Linked DNA regions of Homo sapiens: region 2 is linked to region 1. The links come from fine-mapping of genetic effects on gene expression. A gene starts in region 1. The other region holds a variant in brackets. All regions are shown on one strand. Distances are from middle to middle. Region 1 holds the start of SPMIP6 (sperm microtubule inner protein 6). Region 2 overlaps FAM219A (family with sequence similarity 219 member A).

What was found.
Region 2: its variant is fine-mapped to the expression of SPMIP6 in cerebellum (GTEx, PIP 0.99).

What each region holds. Positions count from the first base shown.
Region 1 is chr9:34,393,422-34,401,752 of GRCh38, reverse strand. SPMIP6 (sperm microtubule inner protein 6) reads left to right here and starts at 3,943. Exons shown (of 7, transcript NM_032596.4): 1 at 3,943-4,254. The coding sequence starts at 4,120. FAM219A (family with sequence similarity 219 member A) reads left to right here. Exons shown (of 6, transcript NM_001184940.2): 5 at 33-87; 6 at 631-3,569. The coding sequence ends at 789. It overlaps LOC124902144 (a long non-coding RNA gene), which reads right to left. Exons shown (of 2, transcript XR_007061464.1): 2 at 5,419-8,331.
Region 2 is chr9:34,422,237-34,430,567 of GRCh38, reverse strand. All of the region lies in intron 1 of FAM219A (family with sequence similarity 219 member A), which reads left to right. It overlaps LOC124902145 (a long non-coding RNA gene), which reads right to left. Exons shown (of 3, transcript XR_007061465.1): 2 at 7,831-7,930; 3 at 5,723-5,982. Among named protein-coding and RNA genes, the nearest start is that of SPMIP6, 29 kb to the right of the region's middle. The variant C/G (reference allele first, on the strand shown) is at 4,442.

The DNA.
Region 1 (8,331 bases):
TATCACTTTCCCTCTCTTTCCTCCATGGCCAGCGATGATGACTTTGACATGTCTAGATACTCCTCCTCCGGCTACTCCTCTGCTGAGGTGAGCCCCTACCCCTTCTCACCCTAGACACCACCGGGCAGGATCACTGCCATCCCGGGGGAGGGCTGGGGCCAATGCCCAAGTACAAGGAAAAAGAGGGCTGGGCAAGGCTGGGTGGTGCCCTGCACAGGGTGGGCCTGGGATAGGATGGAAGAGAAGTGGTTACTGGCCTCAAGTGCATGGAGCCCAGGGTTAGGAGTGGGGCTTTAGATTGCAGCAGGCCATTTAAATAGAATGGGTGTAAAATACAGGTGATATCCTCTAGTAGCCGGCCTGAGATAGGGGCAAAACCCGAATAGGAGCAGGACCAGAGGTGTGAAGTTGACCATAGAATGGGGAGGGGTGACTAGAAAGAGAGGCCAGAGGCGAAGGAGGGCGCCTAGGCAGGAGCGGGGCCTGGGGGTACAGACAGACCCGGGACAGGGCGGGGCTGATATCCAGGGCACTGGCTGGACTGGGGCGCAGACGGCCTGGAGTGGCCGCAGAGCTGTGGGTGGTGCCTCCCTGCCGCTCGGGCCTGACCTCCCTCCCCTTTGCCTACAGCAGATCAACCAAGATTTGAACATCCAGCTGCTGAAGGACGGCTACCGGTTAGATGAGATCCCCGACGACGAGGACCTAGACCTCATCCCCCCCAAGTCCGTGAACCCCACGTGCATGTGCTGCCAGGCCACGTCCTCCACCGCCTGCCACATTCAGTAGCGGGCGGGGCCACTGCGGTCGCCGGGGCGGGGCCGCCAAGGGCCGGGTAGGACGGGCAGAGGCCGACCCCTTCCCAGCTCGTCTGCCTGCCCCCGGCCCCGCGCCCCTACAGCCGCCAACCTCGTATAACAGTCATTGCTTCCTCCTATGGTAGGACGTGTACCTCTGTGTGTTCATGGAGCTGGAGAAACCAAAACTGGGTCTCTCTCCACCCGGGAGCTGAGGAGGGGTGGGGGCCGTTTGTTCAGTTACCTGGGGGAACCTCACCCAGCACCCTGCCCCGCTTCCCAGGGCTGGCCAAGAGAGAAGACTGGACGGCAGGGAGGTCAACATTAACGAGTGGGGGGATCACAAAGCCAGGGGCTTGGCCCCACCCCAGCGAAGCCATGAACTCCCAAGCCCCGGCCTCAGCCTAACCAGGAAAGGGGCTCGGAGGGAGAAAGGCCCAGGGCAGTGGGGACGGGTCCCAGCACCTCGGAGCCCCCTTCACACGCCCCCTACCGGCCCATGTTTCTATTTGCATTTCCCCCTCCTCAGATGGGAAGCCTGGCAAAGCTGCCCAACCGGGTAGTGCCCCTCACCCATCGGATCACTGCCTTCTTCCTCCTCTTGCCCCATTCACCCGCTTCCTTGCACTCTGGGAGTGGGGCAGGGTAAGGTGGGCCTTACAGACAGGCTGAGGTTTGGGTGGTGTGATCTGTCCTAATTGGCCCCTCACCAATGCATCTATCTGTCTGCCACCAGCCCACCCCACCCTGCCCCCACCCTCACCCACGCTTCTGCTCATTGGTCTCAATCCCAGCCTGGAAGCAGGGAGTAAGGCTGGACTCCAATGGCCCATTCCCCTCACCCCAGCCCAAGACGTGGGAGGCTGCTTCCCAGTAAGAATCCAGGAGCAAGCTTTGGTGAATCCAGTGGGCTGAGTGGCTCTATGGATGTGGTTGTTTGGATGTGGTAGGGAGTGCTTAGCAGAATGTGTGTGTATCTCTGAGGCTGTCAGGGGGTGGGTGGGTGTGTGTCTCTGTTGGACCTGTCTCTCCTCAGTCTATTCCTGTCATAGATGTGGGTGTCCCTGGTAGGGAAGTGCCTGTGTGGTCTGTTTACAGTGCAGAAGGCGGCTCAGCAGTGCAATGGGCTGACAGCCTTGGACCGGGAGTCAGAAGCCTGGGTTCTGGTTGTAGCTCTGGCCCCTCCCTGTGATCTTCAACAAGCCACTTGCTTTCTCTCGTCTTCAGTTTCCTCAACTAGAAAATGAACAGCAGCTGAAATTATGTTGAAGATCCTTTTATACCTGAAAGAGTTTCTTCATAGAAATTTCTGTGGTGGGGAGGGGGCAATCTCTGTGTGTCTCAGTATACCTAAAGGTTGGGGTGGGGCGGAGTTGTGTGTCTCTGTAGAAAGGCGAAGGGGCAGTTCCTATCAGGACTGTGTATGTCTGAGCACATGTGGCTCTGTTTGGGATTACGTGTTTGTCTGTGAATGTGTGTGTGTGTTGGAGGGTTGTCTATTGTGTGTGGCTGTATAGGGTGTCTGTAGATCAAGATGTGTATACAGCTGCTTCTGCTATTGCTGGTTTGGGGGAGGGGACTGGAAAGCTGAGACTGAAAATCAAGAGGGAAGAGGTGAGGAAGGCCCACCCCTGGGGCTGGGCAGTGTAGACCTGCCACCGTGTGAAGAAAAATGAAAGCACAGATAGCCTAAGACTGCACAGGCCTGTGCCCACATACCTTATAGCACAGGCCCAGGTGGATCATCTCATGCTAACACCCCACATGTGCTGGTGGATCCACTCCCATGGATCCACTCACATGCTGCAGGCATGCAGTAGACTCACCCACAGCCCACTCTCTGGACACCAATCCTGGGAGGTGGGAGCTGGAATGGGGAGCAATGAGAGGAGGGAGTGAGACTGTTGGCTTAGGAAGGGTGGTACCTCTCCCTGCATCATACCCAGGAACTGCCAGCTCCAAAATATTGGGGTACAGCTCACCACCCCCCACTCCGCCAACCCATTCCTACCTCCTCTAGTGCAGGGACCCAAGTTAGATGATGAGAAAATGCCAAACAAAGGGAGGCAAGGACAGAGAAGGTACCTGCAGGACCCACAAGGCCCATACTGGCCCCCATCTGAACCCACCTCTCCCACCCAGATCAACATCCCCCCAACCCCTGTGCCCCCATCATCTGGACCCCAGAGCCAGCCCTCCCACTACCACCACCACCACCCCGGGGCTCCTTGGCTCACCTTTCTAGAACATGGGTACCTCCTCTTTTTGGGGGCTCATTTAGACTGCTGCCTTTGCTGCTGACTTGCAGTGTGACTCGGGCCCATTGTTCAATCTCTGTGGCCCTGAGACACCAGGGAAAATCTCCCCCCCCACAGGACATACTAGTTCCCTGGCAGGCAAGGGCTTCCAACTGAGGCAGTGCATGTGTGGCAGAGAGAGGCAGGAAGCTGGCAGTGGCAGCTTCTGTGTCTAGGGAGGGGTGTGGCTCCCTCCTTCCCTGTCTGGGAGGTTGGAGGGAAGAATCTAGGCCTTAGCTTGCCCTCCTGCCACCCTTCCCCTTGTAGATACTGCCTTAACACTCCCTCCTCTCTCAGCTGTGGCTGCCACCCAGCCAGGTTTCTCCGTGCTCACTAATTTATTTCCAGGAAGGTGTGTGGAAGACATGAGCCGTGTATAATATTTTTTTTAACATTTTCATTGCAGTATTGACCATCATCCTTGGTTGTGTATCGTGTAACACAAATAATGATATTAAAAGCATCAAACAAGCCAGCCTCAGCTCCCTCCCTGGGGTGTGGGCAAGGGGCAGATGGGCTGGGAAGCAGACAGAACTGGTCCTCTGGGCACACATGTTACTCCACCTCCACCTGTGGGTTCCCAGGCATGCCACTGACCTGCTGCATGACCCTGGGTGAGTCACAACCCCTCCGAACCTCTGTTTCTCTTCAACAGTGAGAAACCTGACCTAGAAGATCTCCAGAGGCCCTCTGAACTCTTAGAAATTGGGCTCTTTTGATAGGCTTGAGGCAGGAGGGGGTCAGGAGCAGGGAGGGAATTAGACCTCCTCACCTTCCCAGGGATGGGGCTGAGCCAGGTGATATCACAATGGGCAGTGCCCATCCTGGAGGGGGCATCAGTGTGGGGTGGGAGCAGGAAGGCTGTTGGGGAAGGAAGCTGAGAGATCCTCTGCAGGAGGGGATTATAGCAGCTAAGGGCACCTGCCAGGCTGGAGGTGTGGCCTGTCTAGGGGAAGGGTGGTCACTGATGTCCAGCAGGAGCCCTTGACAGGTAGAGCCCACCACGGCATCTCCAAGACCACACCATGTTCCTGTTCTCCCGTAAGACCAGGACCCCTATCAGTACCTACAGTGACTCCTACAGGGCTCCCACCTCCATCAAGGAGGTCTATAAGGACCCACCCCTGTGTGCCTGGGAAGCCAACAAGTTTCTGACTCCGGTAAGTGGGAGATTGGTGGGGAGGGGCAGGCCAGAGTGTATGGCCAGTCTGGATGCCTGGCAATGTATGTTTGTAATGATTTGTAGCTTTGTGTATGTGTGTGTTTTATTCATTTACCTAGGCACAGAATTTACAATGGTATGTAAAACAGCACAAAATCCTGCCTTCATGGAATTACATTAGGGTAGGAGGTAGGAACAGGCAGATAATAAGAAATAAACATGAGTTTTATAAATTCTTCAAAAATACTGTAAAGGAAATAAACAGAGTAGTGGAAGTGGAAATGGAAAGGGAGGGCTACTTAGGTCATGGAAAACCCTCTCTCAAGGTGACAATAAACTGAGACTGGAAAGATGAGATAGAACTAGCCACATGAAGACCTGAAAGAATAGAAGAGCTGAAAGTTCCAGACAAGTGATCACAAAGTGCAAAGGCCCTGAGGCTGCCTGTGGAATAGGCCGGAAACTGTCCTATATGCATGCCTTTATCTATATGTATCACAGTTTACTTGTGTCTGTGCTTGAAGATTGGTGGCCAGGTGGGAGGAAATCTGTGAGTCTAACTGTGACTCTGCCTAAGAGAATTTATCTGTGTGTACCATCCAACTTTGCTGAGTATCTTCATCTGTAGGCAACCCAGGATACAAAAGGGAAGGGCCAGCCCTTGCCTTTGAGGAGCTCACAGCAAACAAGTGAACAAAGTAGAGTTGCCCGATGTGGAACATGCACCAGCAGAGGTGGAGAGCCAGAAAGGGGAGAGCGCTGCCCAACCTGAAGGGCAGACCTACTGAGGGATCCAGGAGGAGGAGGCTTCCAGCAGAAGACAGTCAGGAGAAAAGGCAGCCTGTGGGCAGGGACCTACCAGAAACTGAAACTGTTAGAGCAGGAGAGTTTAGTCCTTGGGTGAGAGAGGAGTCTGCAGACCAAGAAGGGCCTCTCTGGCTATGTTGTGGAGCGTGGACATAAGGCTCCAGGTTTTTGAACCTGGGAGGGAGAGTCATGGTTCAATTGTGAGTTAGGCCACTCTGGCCACAGTGTCAGGGAATTGCAGGGGCTGGGGTTGAGGGCAGGAAGGCCAGCGAGGGGTGAACAGATGAGGAAGGAGGATGTAGGTGGGAGATAAGGAGATTGTCACAATGAAAAAAGGAATTCGTTGAATAGGAGAGAATTTTTAAAATAATTTATTTTGTCTAACTCCAAAATAAATATACGCTGAATGTAGAAAATGCAGATAACTCAGAGAAGCACAAAGAAAAAAGGTCTAAAATCCTACTACCTAAAATTACCATTGTTAATATATTATCGTATGCCCTTTCAGGAAGCAAATATTGTTTATTATAAAAATAAATAAAATTTATTACAAAATGGTGTATTTAAGGAATCTTATTGAAAATTTAGGTACTTTATAAAATTTTGCTAGTATAATCATTCTTATACATGTATCTTTGTACACATTTCCAATTATTCCCTTAGGATAAATTACTAGACATGAAATTGTTAGGAGAAAAGATATACACATTTTTAAAACTTTTGCTATATACCTCAAATTGCCATAATAAGTAAGGGTTGTAACAATTTACATTTCCACAAGCAAAATATGAGAGTGCCTGACTCCATACTCAATAGAAGGGAATTTTAAAAAGTAGATGAACAGATTTTGGTCACCATATGGATGGTAAGGTGAGAGATTAGGGTGACCCTTGAGTTTTTGGCTGTGGCAGCTGGAGGAATGCTAATGCTATCAACTGAGGTTTGGAATAACAGATTAGAGATTTGGAGTTCATTTGAGAACAAAAATATTTGAGGATATCCAGGAAAAGATGTTTGGCAAGTAGTTAGATATACTTATCTGAAGCAAAGGAAAGAGGTCTGGGTTATAGATAGAGATCTTGAAGTCATCATCATATAAATGGTGGGTGAAGTCATAGGAAGAGATGAAATTGCCAAAGAAGAGAGAGAAAATGGCCAAGGACATAACTTTGGAGAATATAAATATTTAAGGGTAGGTAAAGGAAAAAAAGCCATAAAAGAAGACAGAGAATTATTGCCAGAGAACTAGGAGGAAAATCAAAGATAAACCAATAAAGACAGCATTATTAGACAAAGATCAGTGTCAAGTGTTAGTGACAGAGAAATCTCTCGGATGTAGTAACTCTTGGTAACTTAGCCAGACAGCTTCAATGAATGGCGAGGAGTGAAAGTCAGATAGCAGTGGTATTAAGAATGAAGGAAAAGCCAGGCATGGTGTCTCAGGCCAGTAATCCAAGCACTTTGGGAGGTTGAAGCAGACAGGAAGATTGCTTGAGCCTACGAGTTCAAGACCAGCCTGGGCATCATGGTGAAATCCTGTCTCTACCAAAAATACAAAGATTAGCCAGGTGCAGTGGCATGTGCCCATAGTCCCAGCTACTCGGGAGGCTGAGATAGAATCACTTGAGCCCAGGAGGTTGAGGCTGCAGTGAGCCTTGATCACACCACTTTACTCCAGCCTGGATGACAGAGCGAGGCCCTGTCTCTTAAAAAAAAAAAAAAAGAATGAAGGAAAAGCTGCTGCTTTTGGCAGTATGGTGGTCTAGAAACTCTGAAGGGCCCTGTTGCTTCAAAACAACTTAAGTTCTGAATAAAAATTAATTTTTATTTTGTGTTGGAGTCTCATGGAGATGAGTGGTAAGTATAGTTAAGAAGACAGGATTGTCCTGAGGACAAATGCCATTATTAGCACTATAAACAGGCATTTAAGCCTTAAACTAGCTGAAAGATAGAGGAATTAAATCTGTACATTCCAAACTTAACCAGAAAGTTCCATGTCTCTGCCCCCCAACACACACCCCACACACACATATTTATCTTCAATGGCGGTAAACATCCTCAGTGTAGGTTTCCAGGTATCCTTTGAAGAACGGCCAATTAAACATGAGCTCACAATAAGAGATAAAAGAAAACAAACCACCATATTACAGAATCTGCAGACACAACAAACAATAAACTTAAACTCCCAAGAATTTCAGATATTAGAATTAACAGTTAAATAATATAGAATAATTGGGCCGGGTGCAGTGGCTCACAGCTGTAATCCCAGCACTTTGGGAGGCCGAGGTGGGTGGATCATGAGGTCAGGAGATCGAGACCATCCTGGCTAACACGGTGAAACCCCATCTCTACTAAAAATATAAAAAATTAGCCGGGCATGGTGGTGGATGCCTGTAGTCCCAGCTACTCAGGAGGCTGAGGCAGGAGAATGGTGTGAACCCAGGAGGCAGAGCTTGCAATGAGCCAAGATCATGCCACCGCACTCCAGCCTGGGTGACAGAGCAAGACTCCATCTCAAAAAATAATAATATAGAATAATTATGATTTTTTAAAAATGTGAAATCTGGCCAGGCATAGTGGCTCATGCCTGTAGTAATCCCAGTACTTTGGAAGGCTGAGACAGGAAGATCACTTGAGGCCAAGAGTTCAAGACTAGCCTAGGCAACATAGTGAGACCTTGTCTCTATTTAAAAAATAAAAATACGAAATCATTAAAATAAGCAAGCAATAAGAGATTATTAAAAAATGAGTAGGCAAATGTAAAAAGGAACTGAATAGAATTTTTAGAAATGAAAAATGTATTTGCTAAACCAAAAATTCAGCAGATGGATTAAAGAGTAGAGTCAACACAGCTGAAAAGTCCAGTGAAATGAAAAATAGACTGAAAAAATTTTCCCAGAACGCAGCACAGAGAGACAAAGAGATGAAAATATGAAAGAAACATTAAATGATATGAAAGACAGAATGAGAAGATCCCACAAACATCTAATGGGAATCTCAGAAGGAAAGAGCATAAAGAACAGTTATTATTTAAAAAGAAAAAGGCTCAGAATTTTCCAGAACTAACAAAATAAATGAATCCACAAATAGAGAAAAAAAATAGAAGAAATTCCACAGTTAGGCACCTCACAATGAAACTGCAGTTCACCAGCTTAAGAGATGACCTTAAAAACAGACAAAGAAAAAAAATTCTCGAAGTGTCATCCTTTCAAAAACCAAGGAAAGATAAGACATTTACAGGAAAACAATGAAAATGTTTATTACCCTC
Region 2 (8,331 bases), 29 kb before region 1:
CCTCCTGGGTTCACGCCATTCTCCTGCCTCAGCCTCCTGAGTAGCTGGGACTACAAGCGCCCACCACCACACCAGGCTAATTTTTCATATTTTTAGTACAGATGGGGTTTCACCATGTTAGCCAGGATGGTCTCGGTCTCCTGACCTTGTGATCCGCCCACCTCAGCCTCCCAGCATGTGTTTTCTTTTTTTGTTTTGTTTTGTAGAGACAGGGTTTTGACATGTTGCCTAGGCTGGTCTCGAACTCCTGGGCTCAAGAGATCCACCCAACTCAGCCTCCCAGAGTGCTGGGATTACAGGGATGAGCCACTGAGCCCTACCATGCCTATTTAATTTTGCATAGCCTTCCTGCACATGTCTTTCGCTGTGAAAGGGGCATGACCTCTTCTCTTTCCAAGACCAGCCCTGTAGGTCTAGGGATTCCCCCTTATCCCCTCCAGGTGCTGCCCTACCTCCCCCCACACATGTCTAGCTCTCTGTTGAGGTCACCATCACTCTGAAGGTGAAGTAAGCTTGCAAGACAATTATGTCATCTCCCAAGCTGTCCCTGGCCAGGGCCTGATACCCTAATACTTCAGGATAGTAGGAGTCCTGGGGATGGGGTAAGAAACCAGTGGAACAAGGGAATATTAAAAGGTCCTCTGTCTCTAATACCCCTGTACTTCCCTCTTCAATCTGGACGAAGGGAGCATGAAGGAGGGGAAATTAAGGAGAGACACTGAGCAGGTTTCAAGGCCTGAAGCAGGATCCTTTCATGAGCCATCACTGGACTTTCGGCCTACCAATAGGAATATACTTAATTTAAATATGCCTTTTTTTGCAGAGGGAAGGACATTGACATGAGGTGGGTGTTGTAGCAAATGGAAGCAGAAATAAAACTAGCGAGTCTGGAGCTTGCAACCTGCCACCCCAACCCTAGTCATGCACATGGCCCCCAGAGCCCACAAGCAGAGAAGAGTTAAATTCACACTATAGAGGGACTTCCTCCCACTTCCCCAAGTCATGTGTGAGGAGTCTGAAAGGTCAGAAGAATCATAATCATATACTAGGGATTAAATTTTCTGGTTGAAAGTTCCTCCTCTACCTACAGGTCTCTTCCATGGCTAAATGAATCAGAGCAGCTCTCACTTTATGATTCCCTGAGCTGGTGAGTGAGGAGGGTAAGTCTGCCTGGATTGAGGCTCAATGAAAACACTCAGGACCCTGTTCCTCTCAACCAGCCCTGCTCTGAATTTGTGCAAGGCCCTCTTCCTTTTGAGACCTTGTTTTCTTCACCTCTTTTAGGCTTCTGGGTCCCTTATTGAAGGAACTGTCAAGCCCAAAGGCATGCATTATACCTCAAAGAACCTCCTGGTCAAAGAAATTGATGCTAAATAATGAAACCCTGAGAGAACAGCTGCAGGCTCCCTCTTCTAGTGCCAACCAGTCATAATGAGAGGGGAGAGCAAGGAGAAGAAAAGAACTTTTGGTGTTCACTGAGCCTTGAGTACGCCTGGCAGAGTTTGGGCTAGAAGGACTAGGGCTGCCCCCAGCCCACCTCAAGAGGTGTTGCATGATAGTGCTCCTGGAGATGGGGCCGTTGACAATGTAGTAATGAATTTATGGGTGAAAAAATGTGCAGAGGATCTGGATCCAGGCTGTCCCTCAGCTTGGCCTCTCTCTTGCTCCAGGAAACAGCACATTCCAGCTTCCAGCAGAGGCCCTTACTGTGGGTTTAAGCACAGGCTCTTTTAATGCACAAGGAAGCCTGGAGAAGAAACAAGAACAGATGAGGACTTTGCCAGATCCCAAGAGGGTTTGTTTGTGTTGGGTTTTGTTCAAGTGGAACAGACCTAAACTCAGCCAGAGCTCGCTCTCAGTCTGCTCTCAGGGGCAAAGGTGCCCAGTGTTTGTCTTCCTCACAGCGGATGCTCTGTAGTAATTGTTTTATTTAGGAGCTGTGATTATGTGTCCACAAACCTTACTAAATTGAATACAATCCTGAGCATTCAGAAGAAGAAACAGTGCAGGACTCAGGGGAGGGCACAGCTGGCTGCAAACAAGGGCCCATGAATTCTAATCCCAGGGCTGCCATCTGGCATTGACCTGGGAGAACTCATTTACTCTCTACCCTGGAGGCTCTTTCTGGGATCTCAGGGCCTGAATAAAAACAGACCTAGAAGCTCAGAAAGTGAAACAACCTGTCTAGACTCTCAGAGTCAGTGCAGTTCACAGGTAAACTGTTCATAGGCCCTACTCTCTAGACAGGGGTTGTGTTTACTATTCCAGGAGGTTTCTTGCATTTTCCTTTACCATCTGTTTGCCCTTATGTCTAAATCCTGAAGAGTTTCCCTGCCTTGGGTGTTTACTGCCTGTTGAACATGGTTACAAGAACCAGGTTGTCAGAAAGCACTTTGAACAGACAGAGGATCAGAACAGCCCCACTCCTATCTCCCTCCAAAGAGTTTTCTGATGGTTTGGATTCCAAGCTGGTTTCCCATTCTTCCGAACTCAGTAACAAGAGTTGGGCCTTAATCATTTGATTGTGGAAGTATATATCTGCAAGCTAATGGCTGATCTTAGCCCTTTAGTCACAAAGAAGGCTGCATCTATCTGCTCAGTTTGTTGTTAGTCTCCATGAGAAGTTGACCTGAAATTGAGTTGCTGCTTTGGCTGTGGACCTTAAGTGAAGTTTTAACTAGGCCAAGCCTTCAGGTGAGTTGAAGGAGGGTTTGGGGGACTCCTACTTTGGCTGTTCTCCAAAATAACTTTGAGCCCCTGACCAGAGGCTTACAGTGAAGAAGTAGTCCTACAAAGAGCACAAAATGCAACATCTGTCTGTGGGACACCATTAGACAAGACTCCAGCATGGTCTGATAGGTCAGGAGTGTTTGCCACCTCTCTGTTATAGAAAGATCCTTGCTATGCCTTCAAATCAAGTAGAAGGCAGTGTTTGTCTTTTCAGATTATGGCCTTTCATTTTCTATGCCAAGCATTGGGAGGACATAGTGGAGGCAGGCATGGTCCCTACCTTCACGAACATTTATTAAACAAATTATACAAATAGTCATTTAAATAAAATTTGCTAAGTGCATGAAAGAAATGTATGGGGGAGCAGGGGCTGTGAGACTACATTATAGAAGGATCTAACTGAGCCTGGCATTTATGGGAAGCTTCTTTTAAGAGGTGATGTGTCCCAGCCTGGGCAACGTAGACTCCATGTCAACAAAAATATGTATGTATACAAAAATTAGCCAGGTGTGGTGGCGTGCACCTGTAGTCCCAGCTACTTGGGAGGCTGAGGTAGGTGGATCACTTGAGCCCAGGAGGCTGAGGCTGCAGTGAGCCGAGATTGCGCCACTGCACTCCAGCCTGGGCAACTGAGTAAGGCACTGTCTCAAAAAAACAAGAGGTGATGTGTGTCAGCTGAGGCCTGAAGGATGTAGTAAAATTTAACCAGAAGGGGAGCATGAGGTTAAAAAGGATATTGATACCCCATCAGGAGTAAAGAAGACCAGTGTGCAAACTAGTAAGCCTGGGGAAGAGTGGCACAAGATGAGGTTGGGGAGATAGAAGTAAAGGCAAGTGACTACTCCTTTGCCATCATTCTTAGCCTGGTCTGGAGAAAAAAAAAAAAAGTGCTGGTTGAGACCACCCAAACTGCTGTTCCATCTTCCTAGCAGCAGGGGCCTCACAGGAATGCTCAGGGAGAGGTGCTTCTAGCCCCAACCTGGGGATCACACAAATGGAATGGTCCTCACCTGGCAGCCCAGTTCAGAGGAGGGAGGAGGAAGAAAGACTAGGCACTCACTTTCCCTGCAATCCTCTCTCTATTTTTCCATTGCTCTGAACTGTTTATTAATACATGACAGAAGCCATTTCCCTATTTAGATGGTTCTGCTGGGAATTCCACACCACCACCATCCCTCCTGAGGCAGATTTTAAAGTCAGCTTTCAAGATTTTATACTTGGATTTCAGAAACTAAATTACATTACTACGTCCAGTGAAACGGCGCCATTGCCTGTTCCTATCTGCATGCTCCAGGCACTGTGAGGCCGATAACATCAGCATGTCAAAGCAGCTCGATCCAGACAATTTGCAGCTAGCTAGAGCTGGGCTATTGGTGGGGAAGGGGAGGATGAAAAATTATCTCAGAATCCAAAACAGCCCAGGGTGTACTATAGACTAGGATCTGGGATTTTTGGGTTCTTTCTATATACCATCATTTCTCCTATCTATAAAGATACAACTCATCTTAGCCCCACCTGGACATAACAAGGAGCTGAAAATTCCTCTCCTAAACATAGGAACAGGACAAAATCACTGATGTTTCAACATTCGGGATGTTTTCATTGGAGTGTAAAATAGAAGGGAGTGGTGGAAAGAGTGAAAGTCATTATATAAAAAATTCAGGATCCTACTGCCTGTGAAATTAGGTGTCCATATAAAAGCCAAAATACT[C/G]CTTGAATGGCTATTCTGTGCTTCTGTGAAGCCCAGATGTGAAGGCCTTATAACTAACCCTCTGACAGCCACAAGGTTGCAGAGTAGGTGAAGACAAACTATTGCTCCCCTGATAGGAACAAAGGAATTTTGGAGTTTCTAATTCTAACCAAATTTAATTGTACAGAACAAGCATTCCCTTCACAACAAAAATATTTCAGCCTATTGGGTTACTTAAAATGCACCAAATAGCATAAAACATTCATTCAACTCTAACAGCATTCACAGACCTACTTTTGTAAATAGCCAAGCACAGGCTGTTCTTTCCCAGAATATGATTTTTTTTTTAAATAATGCAGTAGGTCCGCAAGGTCAGAGTTTTGGGAAAAGTCAGTCTAACCTCATTGAGGCTGCCAGTCCTCTGCCCTCGTGTGAGCCTGGCTTTCCTGCACCTCAGTGCACTGCCCACTCACTCATAGGTGTCAGTGTTTGCATGCAGGAGACAGAAGAACAAGGATCTCCCCTTAACACTAACTGCACATTTTTCAACTTCTCCAAGCACAGTGGAGGCATGCAGGTTACTGACTACATTACTGGCTCTGAAGACTAATAATTAAGTCAAGTGATTATTTTTATTTATTCATTTGTTTATTTTATTTATTTATTTAAGACAGAGTTTTGTTCTTGTTGCCCAGGCTGGAGTGCAGTGGCACGATCTCGGCTCACTGCAACCTCCGCCTCCCAGGTTCATGAGATTCTCCTGCCTCAGCCTCCCGAGTAGCTGGGATTACAGGCACCCACCACCATGTCCAGCTAATTTTTGTATTTTTGGTAGAGACGGGGTTGCACCATGTTGGCCAGGCTGGTCTCAAACTCCTGACCTCAGGTGATCTGCCTGCCTTGGCCCCCCAAAGTGCTGGATTACAGGTATGAGCCACTGTGGGCCTCATTTGTTTATTTTTACAGAAAACTATTATTGAAGGGTTTAAATGTGAGAAAGTTTTGACTAGGCATAAGGAATAATAATAATAAAAGTGAGAAAGGGCTGGGCGCGGTGGCTCATGCCTGTAATTCCAGCACTTTGGGAGGCCGAGGGGGTAGATCGCTTGAGCTCAGGAGTCTGAGACAAGCCTGGGCAACATGGCAAAACCCCATCTCTACCAAAACTACAAAAAATTAGCTGGGTGTGGTGGTACACACCTGTAGTCCTAGTTCCTCGGGAGGCTAAGGTGGCAGGTTGCTTGAGCTGAGGTGGAGATTGCAGTGACCTGAGGTCGTGCCATTGCACTCCAGCCTGAGTGACAGAGTGAGACCCTATTTCAAAAAACAAAAAGGTGAGAAAGCATGATTACCACATAACAGAGTATAGGTTCCATGGTTGAGCCTCCCTCTGGATGTTCACTGTTGGTGGAACAAGTGTTGTGGGTTCTGGGAAAATCGCAACGCAGGCTGCTCCTCTCTGTGTTCTGGATTCTCAGGCCACTCCTGGTAGGTCCGTGTTGGCTTTGGCCCCCTGCCTCAAGGACTAGAAGTCAAGGGTCTTTGCTGCTTTTTGCCATAGCCTGGGGACGATAGGCCAAAACTAAGTCAGGGGACTCTGGTGCAGCCAGAATTTGGGGCGACTACCCACCTAACTGCTTACTATTGCCTCTAGTTTGGCCAAGCCCTGGTCAGCCTCCCTTGCCTTCAGCCCACCCCTTGCCCACACTTCCTAAAAGATAGCAAATGTGCCATGATCTCTGGACCGTGACTGGACTTTTCTACTAGAGAATGTCTCTCGGTGAGGACTTGCAAGCCTCACAAGAATCAGACCCATAATTTCTTAGAACAAAATAAGTTTTTGCTGAAATATCAGCAAGCCTGAGAACAGCATCTTGAGTCCTCCCTCATGTCTTCAAACAAGTGGCCATTCTATGCTGGTTCTTTCTCCCGGCCTCAACTATTTTCCAGTCTCTCTTGTCATACAAGAGCCCCTCTAGGACTCCGGTTCTGGTTCCTCTGTCTTACATTATTCTTCTCAAAACTCTGCCTTTCCTAGACATCCATGACTCTGATCTCTTCTTGGTTCCCTACCCCTCTGACCGTAGCTGTCAGTCTTCTGCTTACTTTTTCAATATTGGTGTTCCTTAATTTTTTTTCTCTAAGCCCTTCTTATTTATAAACATACACATATTTACACACAAAACAAAACCACAAGCCTTACTCTTATTTCTGTTTCTCCATCTTATTTGGTGGCATCACAATTCACGCAGTCACCTGAGTCAGGAGGAAACCTGGGAGTCATCCTAGCTCAAGTCTTTTCCCTCAAACCCAGATCCAGTCAGCCTTAGTGCCCCAGCGGTTTGACCTCAACATGTTTTTCTTCTCCACCTCCTTTTTTCCAACCCCACTGACACTGACTTTTTCAAGCTTTGTCACCTACTGCAATGACCTTTATCTAGCCTCCCTGCCTCCAGTTTAATCATTCCTGCCTATTCCTTGGACCTGCTCCCAGAGCAGTCAGTCTATCTAAATCTGACAATGGGCTGAAAATCCTTCAGTGGCTCCCCATTATTTCCAGGTGAAGTCCAAAACCCTGAACATATCTTACAAAGCCCTTCATGATTTTAAGTCTTCCTGTCATTCTAGACTCATCACCTGCCACTTCGTCCCCTAACATTAACATTCTAGTAAAATTGACCTGTTCTTTTTGCCTGCTCTATAGTCATGTGCATCTTTCCCACCAGTCCTTTCTCTTCTTTTTTCTTTTTGTTTGCCACTCCTTTCCTCATCTGGTTCACTAATACTTCCTATTCTTGCTTCCTCCATCAGTTTTCTTTGGAGAAGTCCTCCCTAATTCCCCAGAGTGGGATAGTTGCCTCTGTCCTGTACACATACAAACCTCTGTCATAGCACTCAGCATATGATTAAAATTATCTGCTTATTCACTTGCTTCACTCACTGGCTTATGAGCTCTTCATGGGCAGGGGCCTTATTATTGTTATTATTATTTAGAAGAAGGGGTCTCACTCTGTCGCTCTGTGCAATCATGGCTCACTACAGCCTCAACCTCCCAGGCTCAAGTGATCCTCCCACCTCAGCCTTCTGAGTAGCTAGGACTACAGACACGTGCCACCATGCCGGGCTAATTTTCTTTAATTTTTCTGTAGAAATGGAGTCCTACTATGTTGCCCAGGCTGGTCTCAAACTCCTGGGCTCAAGCAATCCTTCCACTTCGGCCTTCCAAAGTGCTGGGATTACAGGTGTGAGCCACCGCGCCCAGCCCATATTATTTTTATATGTCCAGAACCCAGCACAGTGCCTAGAATATAGATGCCCTTAAAATGTAGGACCAGAACTGAATTTGGTGGCTAAGGCCCCTTTCATCTCCTTTTCTTGCACTGCCCTCTTCTTTTGTCTCCTGGGCTCACCATTCTCAGTTTCCAACGCATTTTCTTTCTTGTTGCTTCCTGCCAGTCTCTCTCTCCATCTTGAGCTATCGACTGCTTCAGTGGCTCCAATATTTCCTTCCTGTGGAGAACTCAATTGAGCAGGAAGCTTGTGATCAGAAAGCATCCATGCTATTTTCTAAAGAGGGGCTACAAGTTTGTGTTGAGCTCCAGAGACATGATTGAACTAGGTACCAGCCTTCCAAGTGACTGCTTTGCAAGACAACAGTCCCACAGAGGTGTAAGTTCTGGTACGTTGTTAATCTCATGACTTTATCTAAGTCTCTGAGAAGGGGCTGGGGTAAGAGAGATGAGGAAATTAGATTCAAATTGCCTACCAGGTGTGACTTTGGACATATTACTTTATGCAACCTAGTTCTTCAATTTTAAAATGAAAATGATATTTGCCTTACTTGGTTTTGGGGAGGATTCAATGAAATAATATAGATAAAGCACTTAGCACCATGGCCGTACCTCTGGCAG